4 linked regions of the Homo sapiens genome follow. The protein of the gene in region 4 purifies or fractionates together with the protein of the main gene of each other region. This does not show direct contact. Each region holds a gene or a part of one and is shown on either strand. Other genes may lie near its edges. The genes, in order: TTC1, PDLIM5, ZBTB20 and SYT11.

Region 1 (8,067 bases), on a different chromosome or scaffold from region 4:
CTAAGGCAATCCACCTCAGCCTCCCAAGTAGCTGGGACCACAGTCTTGTGCTACCACGCCTGGCTAATTTTTAAAGATTTTGCAGAGATGGGGGTCTTGCCATGTTGCCCAGGCTGGTCTCGAACTGCTGGGCTCAAGCAATCCTCCCACCTTGGCCTCCCAAAATGTTAGGATTACAGGCATGAGCTACTGTACCCAGCCAACTTTTTTCCCAGCTATTTAAGAAAACTGTGAAATCATTCCATTAGAGAGAAAGCAAATAAAGCATCAATGACTAGCTCCTCAAAAATGCTCTGAGCCTCCTGGGATGCTATGTCCAGGGTCTCTATTTCCATCTCATCACACTATCAACCACACATACCCTTAAGTCCTTTTAAACCTTACATTCCTTGGTTATTATGGCTGGGAGGCTAATTATCCCAGAGAAAAGGACCAAACAAACAAACAAACAAACAAAAACAACCAACCCCCACTCCAGCTGCTGACCACTTTCCTCAAGTGATCGTCTTGATGCTATCACGATCATCTTCTGTGATCAGCAAGGACTGTGCCACTAGGACTAATGGCCACCCTGGGTCTCTTGTTCTAAAGATTATAAATGATGGGCTAGAAAGGGCAAAGCAAATAATTGTTCTACCCACTAATAATTCCTATCAGGATTTTTTCCCTCAAGGAGTACATAGCTCTTCTTTCTAATGAAAAGGAAATTACAGAGATGGAAGAAAAAACAAGTTAAAGAATACTGAACACATCTAAATAAAAACCCATTTTGTACTACTCAAGGTGATCCACAGATTCAATGTAATCCCTGTCAAAACACCAATGACATTCTTCACAGAAATAGAAAAATCCTAAAATTTGTATGGAACCACAAAAGACTCTGAAAGCTAAAGTGATCCTGAATAAAAAGAACAAAAGCTACAGGCATAGGCATCACACTACCTGATTTTATAATTTTCTTTTTTTTTAAAGACAAGGTCTCACTCTGTCACCCAGGCTTGAGTGCAGTGGCATCATTGTGGCTCACTGAAGTCTCGATCTCCTGGGCTCAAGTGATCCTCCCACAGCAGCCTCCTAAGTAGCTGGGACTACAGGTGCACACCAGCACACCTGGCTAATTTTTTTAGTGACAGGATTTTGCCATGTTGCCCAGGCTGGTCTTGAACTCGGGCTCAGCCTCCCAAATTGCTGGGATTACAGGTGTGAGCCACCACACCCAGCCCACACTACCCAATTTAAAAAATTTTTAACTGCTTATTCTCCATAGAAGCCATCATTTTAACAGGAACTAGCATAAAGATGATGCAGTCCACTGTGAAAAGCTTGCTCAGAACTTCTAAGTGATATTAATTTGCATTCAGAATGTCTAGCCTCTAGGGAATCTCACAGAACATGAACCAAAGTTACCTCATCAGCAACAAGGAGGAAGGAATACCAGAAAAGCTCTTGTGGGGGCTGAAATTCCATGTAAAGAGTGATTTCTCTCTTCTAGGTTATCTATTGTGGGGTAACACCTAGAGCAGTATCTTATTCATGATTTTTATACTCATTAAGGGAAAAAAGGAATCTAGCCATTCAAACTACACATGTGTAACAACACATATTATTTACAAAGCAACTTAAGTTGGTTAAGTCTAATGGCAGGTGAATTCATTTTAGAAGCAACCGAGGGAATGAATTCAATTTGAATTTTTTCAAATGAAGAGAATGACATAAGAAAAACCCAAAGCCTTGGAGACAGAAAATTCTGGTGCATTAGAATTTATAAAGACAAGGACAAATGGAAGTTTTAATTCCATCTGGAACTAACAATAGGCAGTAAGATTCAGTTTGCACCAGTCCCTTTACTGGACTGGCTTTAAAAAAATGGACTAAGAGACCAATGCCTTCCAGATCCACTATGGCCATTCACAAGGTCATCTTTTTTAGCAAGAAATTCAAATACTAAATGCAAACAGTTTTTTTTTTTTTTTTTTTTTTTTTTGCTAAAATAGAGCATCATTGTTAGTAAAAATAGGTGAGAAAATGCTCTTTTCCCTCTTCTTTGAGACAGGGTCATGCTCTGTTGCCCAGTCTGGAGTGTGGTGGCACCATCATAGCTCACTGCAGCCTCTAACCCTTGGGCTCAAGTGATCCTCCCATGTAGCTGGGACTATGGGCAGGCACATGCCACCATGCCTGACTAATTTTTTGTGGAGATGGGGTTTCACCATGTTGCCTAGGCTGGCCTTGAACTCCTGGGCTCAAGCAATCCTCCTACCTTGGCCTCCTAAAGTGCTGGGATTACAGGAGCCACCGTGCCTGGCCAAGTTTAATTAAATATGTAAATTAGGGGAAAAGCTCCCCCATCCCCCTCCCTTTTTTGGAAAATCTGGGGAAGGCTCCAGAGCTATCCTGAATCGGAAGCAGCCGTCTTTACAGTCTGAGTCTACCCGGCAGGGGCCAAAGTCTCTGGATAGTCTAGGTTAATGGCCTCCTCTCAATCAACTTGGCTATCAGAATGATCCTTTGGGAAATTTGTTCCCATTGTCTGGATGCTGATGTCTGAAGGCCATAAATGCCAGACAGGCTCAATTTATTTTAAATGATTTTTCCTTTAGGGCCACATGATTGCAGTTTATAAAATGTAATTCAAACAACAGATTTAGAAAATACTCAAAAAGGAAAATACATGGCAGATCTTCACCAGCGAAATATCAGACAGGTTACATGTGGAAAAGACTTAAGTCTGTGTTCAGGAACCCTCACTCCTCTTACTTAAGCAGATTGCTCGTGGGAGGTTCCAACTCTAAAATGCTTTGGCAAATATGAGAAATAACTAAACATGGATCAAATGAATCCATTTGCCCTACCCCTACCCCCAGTCTGATTTCTCTTTACTCCTAATTCCTGCCCTCTCGTGTGTTCTCAAACACTAAAGGGACTTTGAGTGCCATTTTCTAAATAAAAATTCTCATGATCTTGACTGCATCCTAATGAACCTCAAGGAATGATTATTCAATGAAGAAACTAAACTGTTTTTATGTAATTGTTATCTGAAATCGAGGTTGGTGGTATCCTAGGATTTTAAATCCCATTTAAGCATAATCCCAGGGAACTGAATTATGCTTAAATTCTTGCAGGCAAGAAAAATTTCCAAGAAAATCAAAAAGGAAATCTGGTTTCCAAAAAAAGCCAATACCCTCTCTAAGCCACGCTGCCCCTTCTGGGGTCAAAATAACTCAGAAGTCAGTAGCCTTGTGGTAGAGTCCGAAACTTTCTAACTCATGTGTTCTCCTCTAGTATTCGCTATGTCCCCACCCTAGGTTCCTAGCTGTTTATGATCAAGCAAAGTAAGAAGTAAGCTTACCTAACATCTCTTCTTTTAGTCTTTCATTACGTTCTTCAATTTGCTTAGGTAATCTCTGAGGAAAAGAGGAGAAACAAGGGTTGGTAAAAAAAAAAAAAAAACCAAAACCTTTCCCTTTATTTTGAATTTGAGAAACACAAGAATCCTAATGTGGAAATAAGATCAAGTTAAGTATGTCTATGATCCTATTAAATAAAAAAAAAAAACCCCAAGTATTTATGTTTGTGGTGCGCTACATAAAGACAAAAGTTCTGTTTGGGCCAGGTGCAGTGACTCCTGCCCATATTCCCAGCACTTTTGGAGGCCGAGTTGGGAGGATCGCTTGAGCTCAGGAGTTTGAGACCACCTTGGGCAACATGGCAAAATGCTGTCTCTACAAGAAATACAAAAATTAGCTGGGTGTGTTGGCATGTGTCTGTAGTCGCAGCTACTCAGGAGGCTGAGGTGGGAGGGTTGCTTGAATCTGGGAGGTTGAGGGTGCAGTATGCCATGACTGTGCCACTGCTCTCCAGCCTGGGAGTCAGAGACCCTTTCTCAAAAAAAAAAAAAAAAAAAAGTTTTGTTTGGCTCTGTTTCCAGTTCTTAATAGAAAGTCTACACTAAAGGAGGGCATCAATACAAATTTAACAAATAAATATATACAGAAAAAAGTTTGAAAGGATACATATCAGATGTTTACAGTGCTATATTTGTATTTTTAACTTTTTTTTAAATTCATTTGTATTTTTTGTTTTTTTAAGACAGAGTCTCACACTGTCGCCCAGACTGGAGTGCAGTGGCGCAATCTCAGCTCACTGCAACCTCCACCTCCTGGGTTCAAGCGATTCTCCTGCCTCAGCCTCTCGAGTAGCTGGGATTACAGGCATGTGCCACCACACCCAGCTAATTTTGTATTTTTAGTAGAGACAGGGTTTCTCCATGTTGGTCAGGCTGGTCTCGAACTCCCGACCTCAGGTGATCCGCCCTCCTCGGCCTCCCAAAGTGCTGGGAGTACAGGCGTGAGCCACTGCACCCAGCCTGTTGGTTTGTTTTTAAGATACAAAGTCTTACTCTGTTGCCCATGATGGAATGCAGTGATGTAGTCACAGCTCACTGCAGCCTCCAACTCCTGGGCTCAATGATCCTCTCTGTTGCCCAGGCTGCAGTGTAGTGGCATGATCTCAGCTCACTGCAACCTCTGCCTTCTGGGTTCAAGCAATTCTCCTGCCTCCCGAGTAGCTAGGATTACAGATGTGTACGACCACACCCGGCTAATTTTTTGTATTTTTAGAAGAGATGGGGTTTTGTTGTGTTGGCCAGGCTGGTCTCGAGCTCCTGGCCTCAAGTGATCTCTCCTCCTTGGCCTCCTAAAGTGCTGGGATTACAGGCAAGAGCCACTGCGCCTGGCCTCCCATATATCTTGATAAGCTCCTCAAAAGCACAGAAATGGAATTTAATTGTGTCTGAAAGGATTATTTAGGACTCACTGGGTAGCAACACAAAGAATAGAAGGAAAAATATTTTTAAAATTTTAGGTTTTACCATACAAGCTTCTCTTGCTTGATGTATTGATGGATCTTTTTCTAATATAGATTTATAGTCTTCCAGGGCTTCATCTAGCTTGTCCGTCTTCTCATACAACTCTGCTCTCCTCAATATTGCCCTGATATAGCTGGGGTTTAATTGAATTGCTGTAAAAAGAGAAGAAATAATTTTTATCACAAAGAAAAATGGCCTACATATCTTTGGCTATATCAGATTCCTTCATCAATCATCCTCCAAGGATACGAAAGGAAGAGTCATTTGCCAAGTGTATACCTGATGCTGGAAAACTTTTTCTATAAAGAGCAAGATAGTAAAGATTGTAGGCTTTGTGGGTCAGACAGACCATCTGTGTCGCAGCTCCTCAATGATACTATTGTAGCACGAGAGCAGGCACAGATAATATGTAAACAAAAAAGGATAGGTGTGTTCCAATAAACTATTTATGGACACTAAAATTTAAGTTCACATAATTTTCACATTATCATGAAATATTTTGCTTTCCAATGATTTAAAACTGTAAAAACCATTCTTAGCTTTTAGGCTATCAAAAACAGGTGGCAGGCTGGATTTGGCTTGTGGCTGTAGTTTGCCATATCCTGGTCTATACTCCAAGTCCTGGTTTTTGCCTACTTGTCATTTACCCAGTCCAGGACAGGCCAGAACAGAGTTCAAGTGCGCAGTGAAAGAGTGAGAGAGAATTTTTTTTTTTTAGACGGAGTCTCGCTCTGTCACCCAGGCTGGAGTGCAGTGGTGTGATCTTGGCTCACTACAACCACCTCCTCCCAGGTTCAAGCGATTCTCCTACCTCAGCCTCCCACGTAGCTGGGATTACAGGCATGCGCCACCATGCCCGGCTAATTTTTGTATTTTTAGTAGAGATGGGGTTTCATTATGTTGGCCAGGCTAGGTGAGAGAGAATTTGAAGATACAAATTAAAGAGTTAAGGGAAACCAATCTGGTGGCAGACTATCATTCTCTTTTTTCTAGGTCTTGAGTACTAAGATTATATTTCTAGTTAAATCCTCACTGTTCCTTCAACCCTCAAACTACTGCTCCAGCACTATGAGGTGGTTGATGCATAATATCTTTTCCTTTATCCAGCATCAGCTGCCCTTCTAATAATCCTTTGCTATGTTTTGGTTCAACATACTGCATTTCTTCTAATTTCTTCCAAGTTGTTTCTTTTTCTATTAGAAAGCAGTGCTGGCCGGGTGTGGTGGCTCAGGCCCATAATCCCAGCACTTTGGGAGGCCGAGGCAGGCAGGTCAATTGGGGTCAGGACTTTGAGACCGTCAGCCTAGCCAACATGGCGAAACCCCATCACTACTAAAAATACAAAAATTAGCTGGGCGTGGCAGTGTGGGTCTATAATCCCAGCTATTTGGGTGGTTTAGGCATAAGAATCACTTGAACCCAGGAGGCGGAGGTTGCGTGCAGTGAGTGGCGATTGCATCACTGTACTCCAGCCCGGGCAACAGAGAGATAATACTCTGTCCCAAAAAAAAAAAAAAAAAAAAAAAAAAAAAAAAAAAAGCAATGTCTTGGCTCTAGAACTTTTTTCTTTTCTCATAATCTATCCTTAATTTTTAAATTCATGCTTTCTGTGAACATTTATTTAGTACTTAATATATACGTCCAATGTAGTATGTCTCTGGGCTATAGTGGGAAACAAGACAGACACAGTCCTTGTTCTCATGAAGCCTTATGCTATTCTAGTAGGCAAGAACAGACAGGTATATAATTTCAATAGCCATAGTACTATAATGAAAAATAAAACAAGGTCATGGAAATACAAGTGAAGCGAGAAATGAGGTAACTTCAGAAAGTGGTCTCAGAATATGAAGAGGGACTATGTGAGAGAGGCCAGCCATGTGAAAGGCTAAGGAGGAGCGTGCCAGGAAGAGGGACCAACAAGAATAACTCTGGCATGTGAGTTATCAGGCTGGGGATCAGAGGCTGAAATGTAGGGCCATGGAGGACCTTCCTGGCCAGGGAAAGGAGTTTGGACTTTTTCCTCAGTGTGATGAGAAGCCACTGGAAAGTTTTCAAGCAAGCTTCAGACATACTCTGATTTACATTTTTGAAGGACTGCTTTGGCTGTAGTGTTGGCGGGTGGGGCAAGACTGAAAGCTGTGAGATCAGCTGGAAAGCTAATGCAGTGGTCCAGATGAGAGAAGATGTTGGCTTGGTCTAAGCTGGAAGTAGTAGAGATGGAAAACAGCAGCCGGATTACATTAAATATGTCTTTAAATTTGAGCCCATGGAACTTGCTAATTAATCAATTAGCCATGTGACACGAAAGAACAATCAGGGATGACTCCAAAGGTTTAACTTAAGCAAGGGGACAGATGGTAATGTCATTTATTAGAATGGAAAAAACTAACTGCAAGTTTTGTGTGTGTGTGGGGGCTGGGCACGTTAAATCTGAGGTGCCTACCAGACATCCAAGAAGAAAGAACTTTGCAGTGGGATACAGGACACTAGACTACAGGGTAGAAGTCAGAGTTGAAGACAGAAACTCTGCCATACACATGGCATGTATTTATTAGTTTTATATTTTAAAATTCATGAATTTTGGCTTTTATCTTTATGAAAATACTCCTTTTGTTTCCCTTAATTGCATTTTTGTTGCTCCAATTTCTTTTTTTTAGACGGAATCTTGCTCTGTCACCCAGGCTGGAGTGTAATGGCGTGATCTCGGCTCACTGCAACCTCCACCTCCCAGGTTCAAGTGATTCTCCTGCCTCAGCCTCCTGAGTAGCTGGGATTACAGGCACGTGCCGCCATGCCCTGCTAATTTTTGTACTTTTAGTAGAGACAGGGTTTCACCATAATGATCAGGCTGGTCTCAAACTCCTGACCTCATGATCCACCAGCCTCAGCCTCCCAAAGTGTTGGGATTACAGGCGTGAGCCACTGTGCCCGGCCTGTTGCTCTAATTTCTTAGGTTAAAAAATCCGTGCATTTTCCTTCTGTCTTAATTTAACTTTTAAAATGACAAATAAAAATTGTGTATATTTATGGTATATAACATAAACATAAATATAACATAACATGTTTTGAAATATACACACAAGGTGGAATGGCTACATTGTGCTAATTTATAGATAGTATTTAAAGCTTCAGAACTGAATGAGATCACTTAGGGAGAAAATACAGAGGGGAAAAAAAAAGAAGAGGGTCCCACGCTCAAC
Region 2 (8,067 bases), on a different chromosome or scaffold from region 4:
TACAAAAACATAAAAGTGGTTTGTACATTTGTATTAGTATATTTAACTAAGTAGAATATCAGATTCTGTTTTTATTCTTGAGCACGTCAGTTTTTTTATAGCTTTGGGAAACTTGTTTTTTACTTCTATTGATACAGTAATTTTCAGTCGAATAAAATCTGTTGTGGTTGGGCTTTGAAAAATTCCAGTATTACAGTTAGTTCGTCATCCATATGATCTTAGGAAAGTTGGCTGATTTCTCTGACGTTTTCTTCATCTACACGTATATGAAAAAGTTAATTTCTGTCATTGGGATTATTGTGAGAATTAAATAACAAAGAGCAGCAAAAAATAAGCATCAGATTTTGAGGCTAAATCCCAGTTAGGTTGTGCCTGTTGAAATCTGAGTTCCTTTCACCTTTGTATTTGTAAGCTTTCCTTTTTCTCTGAACTCTTCCTTGGCATCCTTCCCTACCTTTCCTTTCTTCCCCCCACATGCCCCGCCTTTTTGGATAGGTCTCACAGAAGATAAACAGGGTGAAAAGTTTCATGCCGTAGCTCTTCTCTCACAGCCAACCAAATGCTTTAAATCCCTCCTCTCCCTCCATTTGTCAGTCAACATGTACTTAGTAAGGGCTCACAGGACATCGAATACTAGAAGAGATAGCTGAATACTTAATTCCACTCTGCAGTTATCTAGGCCTGTCATTCCTGTTCACAAATGGAAACCCAATCCTACCTGGAACAAGAAGAACTTCTTTAGTGTTAATCCTGTGTTAATGAATTTGTTAAATTAGTCTTTGCTGACACAGAGAAGAAAACACTTTGCTATATGTGAAAGATTAATTTTATTGTTTAATCTGTGCATAATTTCAAGGGCATTGATGGAGAAAGATGCTCTTTCAGGACAGCCAAGAAGTATCAAGTTAGGCCAGTAGTTGCCCTGAGCATGCTTGTTTAAGAAAGGAGATCTGAGAGGAGCAAGGGTCATTTTCAGCTTGTTTTTTAAAGGTGCAGTGGGAATTTCTTTACTGTCTAAAATTCCTTTTGCTATTTGAAAGGAACTAATGAAATATTTTAAAGTCATCCTTTTAATGGACTGTAGTTTTAATTTATGTATTTATAGTGAACTATATTCCAGCAAGTTTGTAAAAAGACTTTTACAGGTATGTGAAATATAAGATAATCTTATAAATTACAAAAGGGGAAAAAGAATGAAATTCATCGATAGGCTCGTTAAAAATGAAGCTAACGTCGAGACTGGACGATACTAAAATAATGACCTGCCCACTTGCCTCTGGTTAGACTGTAAATCTGGCTTTAGGCCTTCTAGTAGTCTACCAAAAATGAAAGGTAGTTTTGCAATTTACAATAAGATAAAAATAAGACTACTGCTGAGGAAAAGCATAATAGTTCTTGCTGCAGAAATCAGGGAGGAATTTTTCTGAATGAGACCATGTGAAAGTGACGCTGGATGAGATCTAACAACACTCCAGCAACAACTTGCAGGAAGAGCAAGGGTGAATTTCATAGAGCTGTGTCCTGTAACAACTACCAGTACAGGTTCATGTATCACAACAAGCACCGTTCATAAAAGGAATAATCCTGCGGGGTGCAGCAGGCCCAATATGCTGTGATTCACAGAACCCAGTTTTCTGATGATCTGACTTGAACTCAATACATATTTTAGAAAATCTGGCAAATGGAATGTATTTTCCTTGGTCAGTTATTCTTAAATGTCTTTTTTTCTTCTCAGATGAACTTTGTCAAATATTTGATAGCATTGATAGACATGTTCCAGGAGCAGAGCTTTTCATTTTGTTCCAGGTACATACCAACACTTATGCTTTAACAGAATGCAGTTTGAAGTTGGATTGACTTCTTTGAAAACTGAGAAGCCAAATAAGAATACTAGCCTCAAGAGTCCTCCAGCCTTATGGATGAGCTAAAGATGTGCCCTAGTAAAAAACTCACCCTAGTAAATGGCTTTGAATCTGTTTTAATGTGCAGCCAGAGAGTAGCATGAAACCCCAAAGCTCTACCATGCTCTGTGTTATGGTCACAGTAAATTGAGCCTGGAAGATTTTTCATGCGTGTATAACCAGTTGCCCACCTGGCGGAAAAACACAGGGCACTCATCAAACTTTGTCTGGCTTTGAGCAGTGTGATTCCTGGTTTATCTTTGCTGATAAACTACTTGCCAAACATACACTGAGAAAATTAGATGAAGGAACTCGTTGAATAGGATTGTTATTTTATAAGTCAGTTGAAAATGATGGACCACTTACCAAAAGTAATATATTCGATTACAGAATAGGTGATCTGTAGCCTTTCTTTTCTGGCAGGAATTAGTAAACAAAGGCATTCCTTATTAGTCATAACAAAATTATGGTACCCTAAAGTTTTAAAAATAATAATAATAAACTGCCTATCTCAAACTTAAGAGAATGATATGTACTAGCTTATACAAAATGGCATCATGTTATTAATAAGAAACAAGTTAACAAAAAGTAGGGCTAGAAAATACCCTCTTACACCCCACGTAAAAATTTTTAATCACTCATCAAGAGCCTTTCTCCTTTTGTGACTCTTGCAGAATTAGGTGCTGATTCTGAGTAAACATCAATATGGTGACAAAGAATTTACAGTGGGAGATAGTTATTGAATAGCAAGGTTTATGTTATTGTCAGAATTTTAAAAATGCTGTGACTTTGCGATACTCATTGCTATGACTTCTCCTGTTAATAATCTGCCTGGAAGTCTGGTGTCTGATGCTTACCAACAATTACCATGTGGTCGCTTAGGGATGATAAGTGATGTTAATGAGGTCAAAGGCAGAATATCAGTTGACTAGAGCGGCATACTAGAAATCAGGAAATTCAACTTCTGGCCTTGGCTGGGTCAGTGATTTTATGATATTTGTCATATCTTTTGAACATTCTGTACCTTGGCTTCTCCATCTGTTAAACTGAATTCATAATAACTGTCCTGGTCTGTCTCACAGGAATGTTGCATGGACAAATTAGATAAGTGTAAAAGTGCCTTGGAGGTAAAGCTGCTCTATGAATATAAATTAGTGTGATATAGCTACTGAAAAGTATGTTGCAGAGGCTAGAATGGTTAGTCTCTGCAGGCTTCATGACTAGATAAGGCTTCATAATGGATTCCTGCCAAGCAAACCAAGCCCATCTTATCAGTTCATGACCATAAAGTATTTAATGGGGAAAAAAATCTCTTACAAACATTTGTTACCTTGATACAAATGTGTGTTAAAAATCGGTCATGTTGGGGAGGGGGGAGAGGGAAGTTGGTGCACAGTGGGTATAAAATTTCAGTTATACAAGATGAATAAGTTCTAGAGATCTGCTGTACAACATTGTGCCCATAATTAACAATACTACATTGTACTCTTAAAAATCTGTTAAGAGAGTGGATCTCATTTTAAGGGTTCTTACCACAATAAAATTAAATTTTTGAAATAAATCAGTCATATTTGAGTGAAATGAAACCTTTCTGAGTAGTTTCAGACAATTGATAATACCTAGTTTACAGTTCCTGTAGTCATTTTGGAGGGTGAGGACTTGATGTGTTTAGTAAAGTTGAGAAATAAATACATGAAAGAATGTGTGGGGAAGAGAAATTGTGGGGAAGAGAAATTGTCTCAGGTAATAGTTATTACTATTTTTAGCACTATGACTTACCAAATTGAAGTTTTTGTTTGTTTCTTTTGTAGAAGTGTCAAAGTCTCATCTCTGCCTAAACCATATATTTTTTTCTGGTTGCCTCATGTTCTGTCACAGTCACAGTTAACATCCTCATTCTCAATCCTACCCATGATGCAGACAGATTGCCTCATTTCAGCTCAATAAAACATCACCAAATTCCCTTAGGCAGAAAAAGGGTGGGGAGTGCCCTTTCTTGAAGGAATCCCTTAAGTGCACGTCTCCCGTTTTCTTTTCACATCAATGCAGAGTCCCTCTGTGAATTTACAACACCCAACACCCATGAGTTCAGTCCTTAAGAAGGAAAATTGAGCAAGTATTTAATTGGTTGGACATTGCATAAAAGAGGTCCATATCCAGGCTAACTCTAGAAATTTTATTCTCAAACTTAGTTGGCCTCTTTTTCTTCTGTCAGAGGACCATTCTTAGTGGCACTGGGGAAATCTTGGCACCCAGAAGAATTCAACTGCGCTCACTGCAAAAATACAATGGCCTACATTGGATTTGTAGAGGAGAAAGGAGCCCTGTATTGTGAGCTGTGCTATGAGAAATTCTTTGCCCCTGAATGTGGTCGATGCCAAAGGAAGATCCTTGGAGTAAGTATTGGAAACGTTTTTATTCTGAATGAGTTTTAAAGTAGAATAATTTTTTGATATGAAAGTCTTCTATCACTTTAACTTTTTATTTTCTTCTTGCTTTATGCCCTCTCTGCTTTCGGCACTATTTATTATTGTAAAGCAAAACTAAATAGACCTCTGTGGAAATATATCGGACTCATGGGGTTAGGTTGTCTTTGGTTTTGTCTCACTGAGTGCTGGCTTGTCTGGTGAAAGTCTAGCCACTGTGGGGAAAAAATAATTTACTGTGGGTGTGCTTCCTCAACAGGAGCCTGTTTGCTCAGGAATGAAGAGGTCGCATAGGACCACACACATCTGAGTTCTTAGAACTGACACCTTCACTGTTTTAAATTAAATTCCATAGCTTTTATAAGAGCAGTATTTCCCTACTTGTCAGAGTTCAAGCACAGGACACTGATTTCATGAAATATATAAAACATGAGGTTTATAAATGATATATTTTTCTTGAATACATACAGTGTTTAAAAATATAACCTCAGTTTTATGAGAGTGCACATGTGATGGAAAAATAATTTTTTTTCCTTTTTTGCAAAAAAAGGAGTAATTTAGGAATCAGATACAGTACATAATAAATAATGAATACATGAATTTCTTGCTCTGGAATACCTAGTTTCCAATGATAAAGTAAGGGTCAGGCATACTTTATGGTGACTAGGAGCTGGAATCTGATTTCAGAAGAAGCCAGAGTACCTGGCTTCACACAAAAATTGGACATGGCCCTGCTGAACTCTAATATACTCTCAATGTGAAAATATGATAATGAAACTCTAATTATTGTTAATTGAGAGAATAGGTAGTATGAATTATTGAGTAGTCTTAAGATATCTCTTAGGATATCCTTAAATATGTCTGAAACGTTGAAGACACTTAAAATTATATATATGTCACCTGAAATATTTCTAGATTATTGATTTGTGTAATATGTTGGGAACAAAGAAGTGGAATGGTTCAGACTGTACCTTCCCAAATGATAACAAATAATTAATAGAATATTCATTAATACTGTTTTAGTGTATCAAGGTATTCTATAAATGTTAGAATAACAAAACAAAGTGAAGTTAGAGTCTTAGACCCAAATAAAGTTCTGGGAAATGGAAATCTCATACTCATTGCCTTGGAGATGGGCCAGAACTTCAATAGCTTGTCTAGATTGTATTTTAGTTATTTGATTACCTGTTAAAGATTTCTCTCAAGGATGGAAAGGGAAGAATATTCTGGAAGCCTTGGGAGATAGTTTGATTCAATATACATCTTCTACAAATGTTCATGGTGAATTTTTTGGATCTAAATGTCTGTTTCTTCCCATTGTCCTTCAGTAGTGAACTGTGACAATTTCTATGGCTAATAAGTCTATATTATTTCATTTTATTTTGATATTTTTTATAAAAGAAAATAGTTCACTCAAGCACAATTAGAAAACACAAAAAATTTAAAGAATAAATTTAAATGACCTAAATATTTACCAATCACAGATAATTACTGTTAACCTTATGATGTGTTTTTTTCTAGTTTGCTCTTTATAAGTAATGTGTTTACAAAATTGTAATCATGCTTTATGTATATGATTTTTTGTGATAAATATTATAGAAAGAGTATTCACTACTCATCCAAAATTATTTTAATGGCTCCATCTTTCTCTCAATCCAAAGAAATGATTTCTTGTAAAACCAACACCCAAAACCTCTTTTACTAACTAATATCTGGCCCAAATCTTTATAACTTGGTATGTTTAACCATTGGGCCATTGCTGACTAGAATATGGTCCAAATTTTACACATTCGAGTCTGTGCTTAGTGCCATCTTAGCTGATTTCCAAAAGCCTAAACACGTGTTAAACTGATTGGATTACATTATATTTTTATTATATTTTATTACATTATATACATTTATATACATTATATACATGTAATATATACAACTATATATAATTATGTATATTTTATTATTTTTATTTATTTATTTATTTTTTTGAGACGGAGTCTTGCTGTGTCACCCAGGCTGGAGTGCAGTGGCGCGATATCGGCTCATTGCAAGTTCCACCTCACGAGTTTATGCCATTCTCCTGCCTCAGCCTCCCAAGTAGCTGGGACTACAGGCACCCACCACCACGCCCAGCTAATTTTTTGTATTTTCAGTAGAGACGGGGTTTCACCGTGTTAGCCAGGATGGTCTCGATCTCCTGAACTCGTGATCCGCCCGCCTCGGCCTCCCAAAGTGCTGGGATTACAGGTGTGAGCCACTGCGCCCGGCCCCATTATGTTTTGTTATTAAATTATATATATTATATTATTGCTTCTAAAATGCACCAAAGTATAGGTTTGTTTTAATTTTTAAATGCTTCCTCCTTCCCCCAGAACTTTTGCAGATAATACCATAAAACCTTGGTAAGTTAATGTTTCCTGACACCCTTTGAGAAGAAGCAGAAAGTTTTGTAGCAAGCATTTATGAAATGCTTACTTTATTCACTGTACATATAATGTATAAATAACATAGTGATCATTCTTTAAGTTTATTGATTGGCATTTGTAAAGAACACACGTCTAAATATGCATCCGTTTAGATGATTTGTGAGTCTGTTCTTAAGTATCTCTTGTTACTTTGAGGGAAAGCTCAAGACAAAAATGAAGTATGTGTGCCTACTTTGGATTAGCTCTACAGGGATTTACTGGTACAGATATTAGAATAAACATTTATGTATTTATTGTCATCTTCTTTTTTTACATCCAATTACCTTTCTGTAACAGGAAGTCATCAGTGCGTTGAAACAAACTTGGCATGTTTCCTGTTTTGTGTGTGTAGCCTGTGGAAAGCCCATTCGGAACAATGTTTTTCACTTGGAGGATGGTGAACCCTACTGTGAGACTGGTAAGATCAGGGAGCCATTTGTTTCTTGAATTTTGAATAAAGGTAAAACATTAACCCTTATATTACTATAAAGCTCAAGAAAATATTAGGCAAAGTTATTTTCTTAATTGTTTTGGAAGCATTTAATGCTGCTCTAAGCATGTAGAAAAAACTATGTAGATTTTTTTTTTTCTTTTGAGACGGAGTCTCACCCTTGTTGCCCAGACTGCAGTGCAATGGCCCAATCTCGGCTCACTGCAGCCTCTGCCTCCCAGGTTCAGGCGATTCTCCTGCCTCAGCCTCCCGAATAGCTGGGAATACAGGCATGTGCCACCATGCTCGGCTCATTTTGTATTTTTAGTAGAGACAGGGTTTCGTCATGTTGGCCCGGCTGGTCTCGAACTCCCGACGTCAGGTGATCCACCTCCCAAAGTGCCGGGATTACAGGCATGAGCCACTGCGCCTGGCCCTATATAGACTTTTTAATGTGACTTTGTCAAAACAGATATTCCCAACTTTATTATTAGAATTGAGAATGTAAGCATTACTTAGTAGGAAAAATATTTTGCTTGAATTCCCAATGATTTGTGGATATAAATTCTACTAAATCATGTACCTTAAGTCCACTTCTTGTAGTCCAGTAGTGAATTTTGTAAACATCAGAAATGTTCCACTTTAGAATATGATATTGATTTGCCCTTTAAGGCGACTGCCTTGAAAATAAACTGGAGATCGTTTGTTACTTTTACTGAATGAGAAGGTAATCCTGACTTGGATTGTTCCCTTGGTAAAATGATTTTTAATAAACTAGACTAAAAGGACCTATCTACTGCATTTGTCTTATTACACAAACTCAGAACGTTTCCTTTTCCTTCCCAAAGTCT
Region 3 (8,067 bases), on a different chromosome or scaffold from region 4:
CTGGCATTGGTCCCCACCCCTGCCACCTCCAGGAGACCTGGGGAGACGCCCTGGACTGCTGCTCCCTCTTGTCTGCTCACCAGTTGAAGACTTCTGTTATACCTTATTATGGAGGAAAACAGCCTGTCCCTGTGGGTTTGCTGTGGATTCAACAAGCTGCATTTGTTTCTCCCAATTCTGAAACATTACAAAAAGCAACAGAGTGGGCAGGTGACTGCTTCCTGGGAAGGGAGCCACAAGTCTTAAACACAATGGTGGGAAGAGGCAACTGTATCTATGCACGAGGACCTCTGCCTGTGTGTGCTTCCTTTGGGGGGCACACACACTTCCAGATGACAATAAGTATATACACAAACACACACATGTGCACACATGTCAATAAATCCAATAGAACTGTAGAGTTTGTTAAATGCACTCTACTCCACATAAGCATATTCAAGTTTCTCATGAAACGGATACATAGAAATTACTGATGGTTGGGCTCCTTCAGAATGCCCTAAAGTCTCATCACAGATACTGATGCACCCAACTAAGGCAACAAAGCATAAGCAGATACGTGAGATATGTCAGACCTTCGACTTCTAACCAGAAGTTCAAAAATGTATCTTGTTGTCACTGGGCAATATGAATGTGAAACAGTTTTGTGCTGAGGGAAGCTCACACTGTGTGTGCACATGTATAAATAATGTATACTCATTTATAGACATTTTGGACAGCAGCGGTGACATACTGGATGGGTTAAGACTCTTTCATTATTAGAATCTACATATAAATTGCAATGAGTTTGCTGGGTAAAAACAACTGTTGCAACACTAGTAGAAACAGATGCCCCCAAGGTTTTTTTTTTTTTTTTTTTTTTTTTCTCTCTTGGATGTATCAAAATCTCATTGAGGCATTCTAAACCAAAGAAACCTCTGAATTTGAAACAGGGTTAGTAGGGACTTTTATACCCAGCTGGGCATCCCAGAAGCCTGGACTCTCAGGACTGTGGCTAGATTTTGCCCATGATCTGTAGATTATGCTCTTGCACCGGAGACTTGAAAGTTATGAGTTTGCATTCAAACAAAGAACCACCAGATAAAACAGATGTTCTCTAAAACTGAGGAAAAAAAGTTTAGAGATATACACTGTATAGAGAAAGAAAGCTTTTTGCTGGATTGTTCTCCTTGTTAAGGAAATGTTTAAAACTAGTACTCCCGGGCACCTGTGATTGCATTTTATAGGATTCTATTTAGTAATATGATGTCTATTTTACATTCAGCCCCAACCTACGTCACTGAAATAGAATAGGAAATAGCAGCCACTATCTGAGAGTACCCAGTTCTAGGAAAGTTTGGTGCCTCCTCAAGAAGTCACTATTTCCATAGTCCTCAATCATGAATAGGGCTTGTTTTTGTGATAATGTAACTATTAAACAGCAAGAAATGCCTATAACTTCAGAGCCTTCTCATTTCTATATCTTTTATCCTCTTCCCAGGGCTTTCTGATTTAAGGCAATAATGCTACACTATAAGTAGCCTTTTGTGAAAATACCTTAATTGAGGTCACTTAAGATTAGATTTCAGTCTGAAAGTCTACAGTTTACGGAGCAAAAGGTGGAGCCTAAAGAAACCACTGGCAGGTGTTTTAGTCAGTGGTGTGGAAAGATAATGTTTCTTGTTTCAACCCAGGGCATTTTTACCCATCATGCAGTGAGGAGAAAATACATAGTTCTGAAAAAGAACCCACACTAGGTAGCCCTAATTTTCTATCTCTTCACTCTAAAAAGGATGGAAACAAGCCCTACTGTTCCATAACCATTCCCAGGGATCGGCTAAGGTACATTGCTGACTGCTATAGACTCAGTGTTCAAGGAGAAAAAAATCTTCAGAGACTTAGAAAACTCTTTGCAATATTTTGGTCAGGCTGATCGTCTTGATACTCAGTGCTAGAAATGATGCTTTGGATTAGTAGTTTCCACATTCTGAATTTATAGGAACACTGAGTCACCACAGCCTTTTTTCTTGTAAAGGTTTAAGTGATATCAGAAATAGCAACTCTACACGGAAAGCCCTTGGGAATATGAAAATACTCTCTCTCAAGAGCAAGGGCTCTTCCGTGCCCCTTTTCTGCCTCTGTATGTAGCCTGAGCACCAGGGTAGAGATTGCTTTTGAAAGTTTGCCCCATGTAATCTATTTCCTGGCTACCTAAGAGAACAGCCGTTTTCTTCATGAAAACACAAAGAGGGGAAAGAGGCTGCTGCTGTTCCAGTGGGAAGTTATGTCTAGCCCCAGAAGGCCTGGTGGCTGGGTCAGCTCAAGCACTCTCTTCATGCACTGCAGGCTCAGGAGGCATTGGGTTGCTTTGCTTTTTCTATGGAATTAGGGAGCCTATTGAAATTCTAGTGCACCCCTCCTTTTGTTTGTCACCAAGTCACATGGTTCTGTCTTCAGTATCCTATTTTTCTTTTTTTTTAATTTCTTTTTCTGAGGAACAAAATTGGCCATTTAAATAAAGTTCTTTTCTAGTGAGTAAAGAGGTTTCTCAGAGCCAGAAATCACTGAAAAGAGAGTCTGTCGACCCTGCCCATGGAAAAGCCCAGAGATTTCTCTAACCACTTCTTGCCAAACTTCCTAGTTTTGTGATTGGATGTTTCTTGGTTTAGCATTGTTTGGTGCTGAATACATTTTGCAATTCTTTTGTTCTCTGCCCTAGAGCTTCCATTACCCTGGACTTCAACTCATTACCAAATTAAAGAATTCTTTTAGAAGATTTCTTTTAAGAGTCAGGTCACAACAGAAAGGGCGCCCTCCTGTTCTCCTAAATCTCAAGGGCATCTCAGGTTGTGTCTGCTCTTACGTTGCACCTTCCTTTTGTTCCCTTTTAATGCAGCAGCACACTGGCTATAGCAGAGGCAGACCTGATTTGATTATCTGATACCTTTTCCACAAAATCATATATCCCCTGCTCCCAGCCCCAACTAATCAAATAACATCTTCTAGAACAACAGAGGAAAGCTCCAGAATGGGTGTATATCCTGTGACTCCTGGCCAGATCCACCTTGCTCCCTGTCTTCCTAGGGGTCACAGGTGTTGGGAGCATTGTGGAGGAGCCCCAACAAGGAAGCAACATATGGCTTTATTATGTTTTCTCAGGAATCGAAGGGGTTTTATAAGGGGCATATCTCATTTTTGACTTCTGTGCTGAGAGAAAATATTGAGTTTTGGGCGCAGGCAGAGCACAGACAGGACAGCTGGTGTTCCTGTGTGAGGGAAGTACACATAGCTCAAGGCTTTAGGACTGAATGTGAAACAAACATACCTGGAGGAAAACTTTTTTCATTATCAGAATTCACAAATTCTTACTGTTCATGGGTTGAAAAAGAGTATTTGGGACCTTATAGAATATTTTGATGATACAAAATAAAACCCTTATGACTTTTAAACACAGCAAACCCAAGTCTTTCTAAGGCCAAGAGCTACTATGATCTCTAAGATGACTAGGAATGAACTGAGGCTAGAATATGAGCAGGAAATTATCCAGCACACTTAATCATGGCACAAATAGATTCAAAGCATTAGGAATTTGGGAAGAGAACGGTCTATAAAACTGTTATTAGGAGCTAAAGTTTACCTCTCAATTAAAAGATACAGGAAACCATTTTGATACAGAGATTTTCATTTCAGATTTTTTTTCTTTGCTTAGCTTGTTTCCCCCTGTGTAGAATTGTAACAGATCCATGTGTTCCAATTATTTTCTTTTTTAGGATTATATTTCACACATTTGGGGGCCTTTTTTGTACAAATATTGGCATGTAATAAGGAAAAATTGCCCATGATGCTGAGATAATACCAGTGTTTTTAGTGGTAGAAAATATTATTTTTTTATAAACCATATCTAAATATCTTGAGATAAAAATTCCCCTTTGACTTTTTTTCCTCTCCCTTGTTTGGCAAATTCCATTTTAAAATTATAAATTGCTAAAAAATGTCCTTTCCATACTATTTCTCTCTTCCTTGTACTCATCCTAAGAAGTCTTAAATCTGGAACATTTGCTTTTATCTTATCTATCTGTTTCCTGGCTACTAGAAAGAAATTTTTTTAGCACTCATATCACCCTACCATGAAGGTCTAAATGTAAGATGACTGTAGGACTTGAAACAAAAAAAAATTAAAAAGATCCACACTCATTCTTTGATTTTGAAGCAAATGTCTTTCCCTATTTCTAAAGATATTTGTGATTGTTTAACTTAAAAGTGAGAATTGACAATCTAAAAGCATCTCTATCCTTTTGAAACAGGTCCAGATTGGTTTATTTCCTAAAATGTGGGTCAGTTTGGAAAGTGGCCATTTGATGGGCCAGGAACATAGCAATAAACAACTACCTCTTTGCTCCTCCAGATTAGATCTCCCACTCCAATCCAGCTTCTTCCTCTTTCCACAAAATAATTTGTCAACTATTTTAGAATGTGACATATTTGGGAAGGATAAATGTACAGTAGGAATATGTCTACTGCTATGCAAACCTGGCTGGTCCATTTTGTCATGGACTACAATGATTATATCACCTCATTAAGAATTCTTTAGGGATCCTCCACCTCCTCCCCCACTCCCTTTTTTTTAAGAGACACTTCCTTTACAGGGAAAGGATGATAGACTCCTCAGGGTTTCAAGTCACCTGCAGCTTTTTCTCTACATGTTCTACCAAAAGAAAAGGTGGATTCTAACCCAATTGCTTAGCATTTTACATGGCAAATCAGCATTAAGGCAAATGGGTCTCTCTCAGATTTGAGAAACAGAAAGCTACACGTGGCCCATAATGGCACCTAAGATCAACTTTTCAGGCGGTATTAGTGAAAATTCTTCCTACTTTGCTAAATTTGAACAAAGACACTTTCAAATCTACTGTGAAACAGTTTAAAATATTTTAAAGTGGCTTTTGGCCTTCTTTCATTTGTAACATGTATTGAGTGATTTCATGTCATTGTCTCCTAGCTTTAAGAGTTTTTTTCTTAAGGTCAATCTTCTCTTTTCATTTTATGGGTGGAATCACTTGTTTTCCAAAATATCAAAACAATTCCATGACATAGTTAATTAATGCTCCCTCTATTGGTGGTAAGTGGAAATATTAGTCTTACAACACTGCTATTTTAAAAAGCAAAATTAGCAATAGAAAAATGAACTTACTTTATCTCGGAAGCTGTTCCTCACTAACTGTTAAAACAGATCAGTTTTGGACATACAGTTCTTGGCAGGACTCCTCTTAGAAATCACAATAGGTTACACTTAATAGTCAGTTAACCACCCAAGTTTACATTAAAACTTCTAGCAAAATATCCACTGAATTAAGCACTGTGGGACCAAATCAAACTCACAAACACTTCAGTTACACTAACCTTACAAAGCATCACAAAGAACTTATGAAAAAGATCCAAGTTAACCAAATGTCTAAAATATATGAATAAAACCAATTTAGTCATTACAGAGTTGTTTGTGTTGGAAGATTTTCCCTCGTTTGCTGCACAGTTTTTGTAAATAAAATGCTGACAGGAAAATTAGAAGGAAAATTAAATTAAAATGTAATGTAATTTTGAAACTAAAATACGCTCTCCTTTCTTCTTTTTAAAACTGTAGTTTGGTGTTTTGCTTTGTTTAAAGATTTGCTTTCCCCTAAGTATGTTAAAATATGCCCAGCAATGAAATCACTTTGGGAGTTTCAGCTAGGTTTAAGAATTCCTATATTTGAGCTGGAATCCCTTCAGGACACTGTCTATAATGAAAATGTCTCTATTATAACACCTTGATCAGGACCGAGGAGAGAAATCCCTACTAGGAAGAGAGAGTGGCATCTGGTATGATGCAATAGATTGGTGGTCTTTTGAATGGTGGCTGTTGGCATCTGGGAATTTTTTTGTTAATTTCCCTAAAACCTTTCGAAGAAGCAAGGGTTAATTCGTCATCTAAAGAATGATCATCTTATTCAGCCCTCTTAACCATGGTGGAAACAGTCAGAAGGTGATATTTGGAAGGAAAAAAGTAATTTTGGCATCAATGCATCTTGATCTATAACAGGCTTCTCATAATGATGCTCTTTGTAGTTGGGAAGGGTGAGGAGCTATGGCAGAGTTTTGTGAACTCCTCTTCCTGGCTGATCACAAAAGAAAAGACCCCATTTATCAAGACTTCTAGACTATTAGTGTTTCACTAAGAAAAAAAGTAAAGTCAATAGAAATTCTAGAATTGTAAGATCTCAATGAAATTTTGGAGAAGCAAGCAATCTCTTTCTGAAAGATAAAGTCTCTTCCATGAAAAAGAACAGAATTCTAGATGAATCAGTTGAAAAAATTATTCAGTGGGGCAACTTAAGCTTGCTAAAGTCAAAGAACTACATATCAAAATACAAAGCAGCAATTCAAATTACAGCAGGGATGGGCTGGCCACAGAGGCCCTCATCAACCCAGGCAATACTTAAAATAATAAAAATTAAGAAAAATTAAAAAAAATATGAAGAAAATATCCTTCCTCTCTTTCAAATATAACTTTAGTTGCCTTTTATTCTTTCTATCTGGAAGCAGTATCGCTAACCTTAACAGTCTTGACTTACCAAAAAATATATATATGTGTGTGAAATAAAATAAAAGAGAAGGAATTGGTGGCAGTGTATGCAAAACCAAAATGAAAAAAATTACTTTTAACAATTTCACTTTTTTTGTTTTTTTTTTTACACAAATACTGTTGTAAATATATTAAAAAAATCAGCATTCTATCTGGTAAACGTCACTTTTGCCCCTCTATAAAATTTTGAATTAAAAAAGCCTCAAGAACTTTTTATTGTTCCCCCCACCCTCCATTTCTTTTTCTTTTTCTCTTCCACAAGAATATATCCTGACACTTTTTTTTTTTTTGCAAAGATTGTTGGAAATAATCCTTCTCTTGTACCTAGAAACATAGGTGCAAATTTCTGATATCTTTGTTTTATCTGCATTCCTGCCTTTCATGAAAGTCCCTCTTGATTGTGCTGAGGCTGTGGCTCAGCGAAGACACTGAATAAATACGATAGCCACTGTTGCTTGTTGCTTGTCCAAGTCTTCCTGGCTTCTGCTGCAAGAGGGGGATATGGAGAAGGTGGGCCAGGGTGTGTGGACCCGGGCAGAATCTGGGGAAGAAGCCTGCCATTCGTCTTTCTTTCCCACACCACCGAACCCACTGCCCTTCCCACCCCCACAGCCCTTTTATGAAATCAGACAACGTGGTAGGTGGAAAACAGCAGGGCCTTTCCTCTGGGTTTTCAACCAGAAGTGATATTCCACAGTTTTAACTGGTTACTGTGAAGTCCAAGCGGCCAGAATTGTGAAAATGTCCACTGAAACACTGCAAGCGGTGTACTTAAAGACAGTAGGCCTTTTAGATTTTGTTATATATTTTTTGTAGTGCTCTTCACAAGTGGAAATTTTTTTTTTTTTTTTACTTTTTTTTAAAAGATTTTTTTGTAAAGAAGGGTTGTATTTAGAGGCCAGTAGCTAGAGATCCAACCAGTGGACCTCTTGAAGCACTACCAGGCCTTAAGGCCACCATCCGAGGGAGACTGGGAAAACTATTATTCACCCAAGCCTCCGGAAATGTAATGTACCAGCAGGCAAAAAACAGTTCTTCATGTAGTACAAAATGAAACGAAACAAAAACAAAAACAGAAAGTAAAAATGAAACCAAAACATTTCTTAAATTCTAGTGCCATAGCTTTTTTGTTTGTTTGTTTTTTGTTGTTGTTTTGTTTTGTTCATAAGAAAGAGAGAAAGATACTACTTATCCGTCAGACACATGCATCCTCATGTGGTCGTTGAACTGCTCGATTTGGTCAAACTTTGCTGGGCAGACGGAGCAGACGTAAGTGGTCCCCTCCGTGCAGGCCACCACGCCTGGGGGGCCAGCGCGGGCACCTGGGGGTGTGCCTGCAGGGGGGGTCCCATTGCTGGCACTGTGCAGGGCCACGTGTCGCTCCAGGAGGGTCTTGTGAGAGAACTTCTTTTTGCAGATGTAGCACTCGTAGGACTTCTCTCCCCGGTGGAGGCGCATGTGCACGTTGAGGG
Region 4 (7,009 bases):
GAAAAGAGAGAAGATGAAGAATTCTCATATTCCAGGAGGATAGAGAAGGAAAAGAAGAGAAACAGATGAACGCATCTTTGAATTATCTAGTTGTTCCCCCTGGCCTTGTTTCCTATTTTTGCTGTTCTTTCTTCATTTTAGTATTTGTTAACTCTTGCCTCTCTCCCTGAAACCAAGACAATGAGCTAGAATCATCAAAGATATTAAAACCTAGAGCTCTCTGTCTTGCTTTAGTCCAAAGCTTGGTGGGAAATGGAAGTTGAAACTAATGGCTGAAGTGAGTGTTTTAAAGTAGCTATAAATTGCAGTGACCTGTGCTTCTCGCTCCTTTTGTCCTTCATGGTCATGGATAATTGAGTGTTGGCTTGGTGTATCACCCAAGTGCTGTGGCATTTGAAATGAAGTACTCTATGAGATGTGAAAAAGTTGGAAGTGGTAGTTCTCTATGTAGGAGATCCTCTGTAATGGTTTAAAGACCTGCAAGACACATCTGGGCTATTGGCCAGCTCCTTCAGCTTCTGACCAGAACTGCTTTTATTGACACCCCCTTTCCTAAACATAGCTTTTCGCAGTCAAGTAGACAAATATAATACAATGGAATGAGAATAAATTTTGGCTTCAGCCAGACATTGGTTTAAATCCTAGCATTGGCCAGGTGCAGTGGCTCACACCTGTAATCCCAGGACTTTGGGAGGCCAAGGTAGGCAGATCACCTGAGGTCGGGAGTTCAAGACCAGCCTGACCAACATGGAGAAACCCCATCTCTACTAAAAATACAAAATTAGCTGGGTGTGGTGGCACTTGTCTGTAATCCCAGCTACTTGGGAGGCTGAGGCAGGATAATCGCTTGAACCCAGGAGGCAGAGGTTGTGGTGGGCCAAGATCACGCCATTGCACTCCAACCTGGGCAACAAGATCGAAACTCCGTCTCAAAAACAAAAACAAAAACAAACTAGTGCTACCTTTAGTCATTTGTTTGGCTTTAGCCAAGTTATTTTATTTCTGAGCTTTGGTTTCCTTGTCTGGCAAGTATATATAATAATACATACACTCGAGGGTATTTGTTAGGATTAAATAAAATGTAGTATGTAACAGGCTGATATAATTTATTTTCCCTTTCCCAATAATAGTCCCTCTAAGAGAAATCACTATATTATGTTCCACACCATCTCCTTTTTTCAAGGATTCTGGAACTGCAGTTAGAGAAAGGAATCTGTTGGAAGGGAATAAGAAGAAAAAGAACAGGAAGAAATCATGGATTGCTCATGTGATCATGAAAGGGACTTTTGTTTTGGAAACTTAGAACTCAAAGAATAAAGATGCGGAAGGTGAAGTGGAAGAAAAAATACCATCAAGATTTAGCCTTGTGGAATAAGTGAGAACAAGTAGTTAATGAGTGTGAAGATCAGTTATCTGAACACATCTGATTTGATTTCTTCTTCCTTATTCTGAGGGGATAGAGCACACTGGATTCTGCTCATTTCACTGTACCTCTTATTCAGGAATGAGAAAAGCCATTTCCTAGCTGGATTGTGTCTCCACCCTAAAAACTGGAGTCCCGATGCTCAAACCTACTGGATTGTCTGAGGGATAGAATCCCTGAAGGAATAAGAAGGTTCTTTGGCAGCAACTCTCACTGGCTTCCCCCATCTAAACTGAATCAAGGAGAAGCAGGGCAATTATATTTTATTTATTTGATCAGGAAAGCATAACACAGGAAGTTTGCTCCTTTAGCATATACTGCAGGAGTCCCCAAAGAGGAAAAAACTTCCTTCTCAAGCTTGTCTTTGCCACCTTCTTCCCTATTTTCCACTCCACTTTCTGCTCCAGAGAGTGTAAAACTAATCTTGGAGCCCACAGGGCTGGGTCGGGGACCAGCCGCTCTGAAATGACGTAATGCTTTCTGCGGTACACAAAGCGGCCTCCCCCGGGCTGGGCCTCTTTCGCCCCTCCCCCTCCGGCCTGGATCGCGCCCCCGCCAGCATCAACGCTGGTCAGTCCCCCTTTTTGAAAAGGCGGCCCAGGGAAACAGGGAACAAAGGCCCCGGAAGGAGAGCGTCGGCGCTGCCAGGAGGCCCAGAAATAGACATCACGTCATCCCCCAGCCCAGCAGCGCCAAGCGCCATTTGGTAGCATCGGAGGGACCCCACCATTACGATGCGGAATGGAGCTTGCAGGGCTCACGTTTCCTCCTAGCCCCAGCATCCAGCTGACCGGCTTAAGGAGTGGCTTCCTTTTTGCTCCCCACCCCGCACCCCTCTTTCCCCAGAGGCCGCCGCCTCCCCTGGCTGCCAGCCACACGGCCCACAGTCTCCAAGCTGCCATCTTGATGCCCCATCCCCCTTGTCACTTCCCTCCCCCGCAGCCCTTAGGAATGGGAGGGGGAGGAAGGGGCACCGCCCTGTGTGCCCCAAGGGGGAGGGCTTGGCCTACCCCACCTCTCCTCCCCCAGAAGGAGGGGTTCACATCCTCCGCACGCTTGCTGTTTCTCACCTCCAGCAGTGCTGACAGTGCACCATACAAGGTTTTAGCATCCTGGACTTCCCCACCCTCGGTGTGGCTCAGGCCCTGCCAGTCCCTGCAGCCCATAGCTCAAGTTCATGCACTGTCAACTGCCCACTACCCACTACCCACCACCACAGGCCCGATTTTAGTGGGGCTGGCATTTTGAAGGCTCTGGTCTGGGCTGCATTCTCTGCCCTGCCGCTGGGCCCCCTTGGCCTTGCAACCATTCTGACCACCTCAAGCTTAGTTTTCCCGAGTCTACTTACCAAAGCTAGGTCGGATATTGGTGATCTCAGCCATGTCGTAATCAGAGGCTGTTGCTATAACGTTTTTGCAATGGTGAGACAGCTCTGGGAACCCTCGGTCAGTACCGAGGCAGCAGCTGTAGAGCTCTAGGTCAGGGAAGGGGGAAGGTATCCAGCGGACGCCTCCTGCGACGGTCCGGCCCCTAGTTGTCAGCTGCGCTCAGCTCTTAAGATGCTCCGGGGATGCGCTGAGCTAAGGATGCAGGTGCAGTCAGACTGGTCCTGATGAGAGGTAGGCTCCGCCTTCTTCCGAATGGTCCTCGGAAGAAGACTCCGCCTCTTCCGAATGGTCCTCGGAAGAAGACTCCGCCTCTTCCGAAAGATTACGGAAGTCAGCCCTCGCCCCCTTCAGGAAGCTCTCCCGGAGGGGACTCCTCCCACCGCCGAGTTTTCCCGAGAATGAGGCCGCGCCCACTGACGCGCTGTGGTTCCAAAACGAGAAAGTACTGAAGGGTAAGAAGCATAGGTAGATTATTATATGAAATCCTCTGATTTCAGTTTTCTGGGCTTTAATACAGCAGCAAAATGTTCTCGGTCCTGAGTTCCAGAATTTTGGGAAAATAAAATTCTGTACTGCCTGGATTTCAGTATCGACTGCCATCATTATGCATTTCTGAGACCGCTAAAGGTTATTACAGAACTTTTTTTTTTGGCTTATATTTCACAGTGGATGGAAACTGTCTTAAACCTCAGAAACTCTGATGAAAGACCAAACCTGGGGATGGTTGCACAACTCTGAACATTTACTAATTTTAAAAAAACAGCCGGGCACGGTGGCTCATGCCTGTAATCCCAAACCTTTGGGAGGCCAAGGCGGGCAGATCACTTGAGGTCAGGAGTTCGAGACCAGCCTGGCCAGCATGGTGAAACCCCCATCTCTACTAAAAATACAAAGATTAGCCGGGCGTGGTGGCACACGCTACTTGGGAGGCTGAGACACGAGGATCGCTTGAGCCCAGGAGGTGGAGGTTGCAGTGAACCGAGATCGCGCCACTGCACTCCAGCCTGGGCAACAGAACAAGACTCCGTCTGAAAAAAAAAAAAAAAAAAAAATTTGGTTGTACACGTAAAACAGATGGATATTGTGGTATGCAAAGCTGTTTAAAAAAAAAAAAAAAAACAACTAATGAAAAGTGCCAAAGTTAATCAGTGTTGAATTTTTTTCATGAACCTCAAGTGCTTAGGGTTTCGTATGAGAGAGGCCAAACCGAAAGATCTGTGTATTCTGTAGGTCAAAGAACAACACACATGAAACTCCGAGCTTCTGGAGTCTTCCTTGGTATTTGGGAGAGTTGGTGTGATTCAGGTTAGTCAGACTACTGCCATGTTTGCATAAATTTCAACCTTCATTTTGGCTGTGGATAATTTCATCCGTTGGATTCTGTTTACAGATAGGATTAGTTCAAATGTATAAATTTGTGTTGGTGGTTTACCTGTAAAATGAGGGGGTTGAAAGTATTTTTCCACCTTTTGACATTCTGTTTTTTATTATTTTTTTAATCTCCGTGGATTCCAGACATTGTTTTTCTAGAAAAGTGGAAATAACATCATTTTAGAAGTCATTCATTCATTCGCTCATTCAAAAAGCACGTATTGAATTATTGAACATCTGTTACACCCCAGGCAGCCTCCTGGACACTGGGTCAATGCATTATTAGCTAGAGTTAGGAGACTTAATACCTGATTCTCCTTGATAGCTGTCTGTGTACCGTTGTGAAATCACCTACTCAGATGAGCCAGAACTTTGTCCTGTGCAAACTGGAATATGATATAATAATCTTACAGTCTATTGTGGAGACCAAGTCACCTAAGAAAATGTGAGAGCATTTTGTAAAATGCAGAATATTGTACATATATGAATAATTACTATAGCCTGAGTCCAAGAGTGCCTTAGTTTTAATCAGGAGCCTGCACTATTTGTAATTTAGAGACTTCTTTTTCTGGCATTTTATGACTTCTTCAGTCCCTTGGTCCTGTGTTCCAGGTGACTCGTAGTGAGAAAAATTAGTTGTTAATCTTTTTTTTTTTTTGATACAGAGTCTCACTGTCGCTCAGGTTGGAGTGCAGTGGCACGATGCCGGCTCACTGCCACCTCCGTCTCCCGGGTTCAAGCGATTCTCCTGCCTCAGCCTCCGGAGTAGCTGGGATTACAGGCGTGCGCCACCACGCCCAGCTAATTTTGTATATTTAGTAGAGACGGGGTTTCACCATGTTAGCCAGGGTGATCTCGAACTCCCGACCTCAGGTAATCCGCCCGCCTCCGTCTCCCAAGGTGCCGGGATTACAGGCGTGAGCCACCGCGCCTGGCCCCCAAATTAGCTGTTAATCTAAACCACTGAATCTTAACCTCAGTTTTGAGTAGGATAACTCCATGGGCAGAGAAAGCTAAGTAGTGCCTTTAAATTTTTTTGCCAATAACTGACGCACTAACGTTGTGGCTTCACTCTGCCCTAAAATGGGATGGCGCATAGTGTTAGGCGCATGCTCCTTGATGCACTGCGGCGCGGCGCTCCGAGGCTCGGGGACGCGCACGCAATTCGCTGTTGTTGGCTGACTTCCGGTGGTGCCAAAGCCGTTTCCGTGGAATCAGGCCGGCTGGTGAGGGTACAGGTTTGTGTGTGGTGGGGTGGGAAGAGGCAGGTGGGAGCTGGGACACCTGGACGAACGATGTCCAGGTTGAGAAGGTCGGGTCTGAGGGTGGGCGCTGGGTGCGTGGCGGAAGTTAAGGGCGTGAAGTCCAGTGTCTAGTTGGGAATGGGGACTGGAGCCAGCCCTGGGCACCGAGGTGGAAGCGCGGTTAGGACCCCTTTTGAAAATGTTTTCCTAGGAGAGGGCCGTGCCGGGGCTGCCTCCACATTGGCATTCATTCACCCTGCTGGTCCGACTTGGGTTCCCAAAAAAGTGGATTCTGTCGAGCTACTGCTGTGTTTGAGGTGCCTGGAGCTGAAGTAGCTGTCTTTCTTTCCTTCTTTTTCTTTCTTTCTTTTTCTTTTTTTCCCCTTTTTTTGATCTCAGTAATTATCTGTGAAATAAAAGAGCTGCCCTGGCTACTCCCATTCTATTTCTTATAAGGTCACCACCATCTCTCACAGGAATCAACGAAATCTTCATGTTTTATTGAGCTTTAGTTACTGAGTTTTAATTACATCAGTTGATTGAGGGGATGGAGAATCTCCCCTAATGTCTTGGAGAAACAGAAGGGAGGTTTAAAACTAACTGTAGGTCGGGCGCGGTGGCTCACGCCTCTAATCCTAGCACTTTGGGAGGCTGGGGCGGGAGGATCGCTTGAGGCCAGGAGTTTGAGACCAGCCTGGGTAACAAATCGAGACCCCGTCTCTACAAAAAAAAAAAAAGAAAAAAAGTCGTTGAGGGTGGTGGCAAGTGCCTTGTAGTCCTAGCTACTCGGGAGGCCGAGGCCAGAGGGTCACTGGAGCCCAGGAGTCTGAGGCTGCAGTGAACTAGGATCTTGCCACTGCACTCCGGTCTGGGCAACAGAGCGAGACCTTGTCTCTGGAAAGAAAGAGAGAGAGAGAGAAAGAAAGAAAAGAAGAAAGAGAAATCTAACCTTAGACGCTTAGAGTTACAAATAACTTTTATTTTTCAGTTCTCTAGTTCAGGCTTTCATCTAGTACTCTGATAAGTGGACATTCAGGCTTCGCTTGAACATTGCCAGTGATCTAACACAAGGCGGCTTATTCTATTATTGGATCTATTTATGACAGTAAAGTTTTCCTGGGTAATAAGATGCCTTTTTTTTTTTTTTTTTTTTTTTTTTTTGACAGAGTCTCCCTCTGTTGCCCAGGGTGGAGTGCAGTGGCATGATCTTGGCCCACTGCAACCTCCACCTCCCGGGTTCAAGCGATTCTCCTGCCTCAGCCTCCCAAGAAGCTGGGACTACAGGTGCCCACCACCATGCCCGGCTAATTTTTGTATTTTTTAGTAGAGACAGCGTTTCACCATATTGACCAGGCTGGTCTCGAACTCCTGACCTTGTTATCCGCCCGCCTTGGCCTCCCAGAGTGTTGGGATTACAGGCGTGAGCCACTGCACCAAGCCACTATCAGTTTTTATATAATGCTTAACATTTGGCCCAAATGCTGCACAGAATAAGTTGTTTAACCTCTGTTTCATTTATTATTCAGGGAGCATTCATTGAGTATCTACAATATTCAGTGACACATTGAGTATCAATACTCAGT

Evidence for each region.
Region 1: the proteins of SYT11 (region 4) and TTC1 purify together in Homo sapiens (affinity purification with mass spectrometry; 4 studies listed by BioGRID and IntAct, with this or other methods). This does not show direct contact.
Region 2: the proteins of SYT11 (region 4) and PDLIM5 purify together in Homo sapiens (affinity purification with mass spectrometry; 2 studies listed by BioGRID and IntAct, with this or other methods). This does not show direct contact.
Region 3: the proteins of SYT11 (region 4) and ZBTB20 purify together in Homo sapiens (co-immunoprecipitation; 2 studies listed by BioGRID and IntAct, with this or other methods). This does not show direct contact.

What each region holds. Positions count from the first base shown.
Region 1 is NC_000005.10:160,046,466-160,054,532, reverse strand, and holds part of TTC1 (tetratricopeptide repeat protein 1), read right to left. Parts: intron 5,020-8,067; coding exon 4,871-5,019; intron 3,405-4,870; coding exon 3,350-3,404; intron 1-3,349.
Region 2 is NC_000004.12:94,650,344-94,658,410, forward strand, and holds part of PDLIM5 (PDZ and LIM domain protein 5), read left to right. Parts: intron 1-4,116; coding exon 4,117-4,297; intron 4,298-7,083; coding exon 7,084-7,204; intron 7,205-8,067. UniProt on the Homo sapiens protein: May play an important role in the heart development by scaffolding PKC to the Z-disk region. May play a role in the regulation of cardiomyocyte expansion. Isoforms lacking the LIM domains may negatively modulate the scaffolding activity of isoform 1.
Region 3 is NC_000003.12:114,331,222-114,339,288, forward strand, and holds part of ZBTB20 (zinc finger and BTB domain-containing protein 20), read right to left. Parts: coding exon 7,784-8,067; 3' UTR 1-7,783. UniProt on the Homo sapiens protein: May be a transcription factor that may be involved in hematopoiesis, oncogenesis, and immune responses. Plays a role in postnatal myogenesis, may be involved in the regulation of satellite cells self-renewal.
Region 4 is NC_000001.11:155,855,558-155,862,566, reverse strand, and holds the start of SYT11 (synaptotagmin-11), read right to left. Parts: upstream 3,001-7,009; 5' UTR 2,806-3,000; coding exon 2,772-2,805; intron 1-2,771. UniProt on the Homo sapiens protein: Synaptotagmin family member involved in vesicular and membrane trafficking which does not bind Ca(2+). Inhibits clathrin-mediated and bulk endocytosis, functions to ensure precision in vesicle retrieval.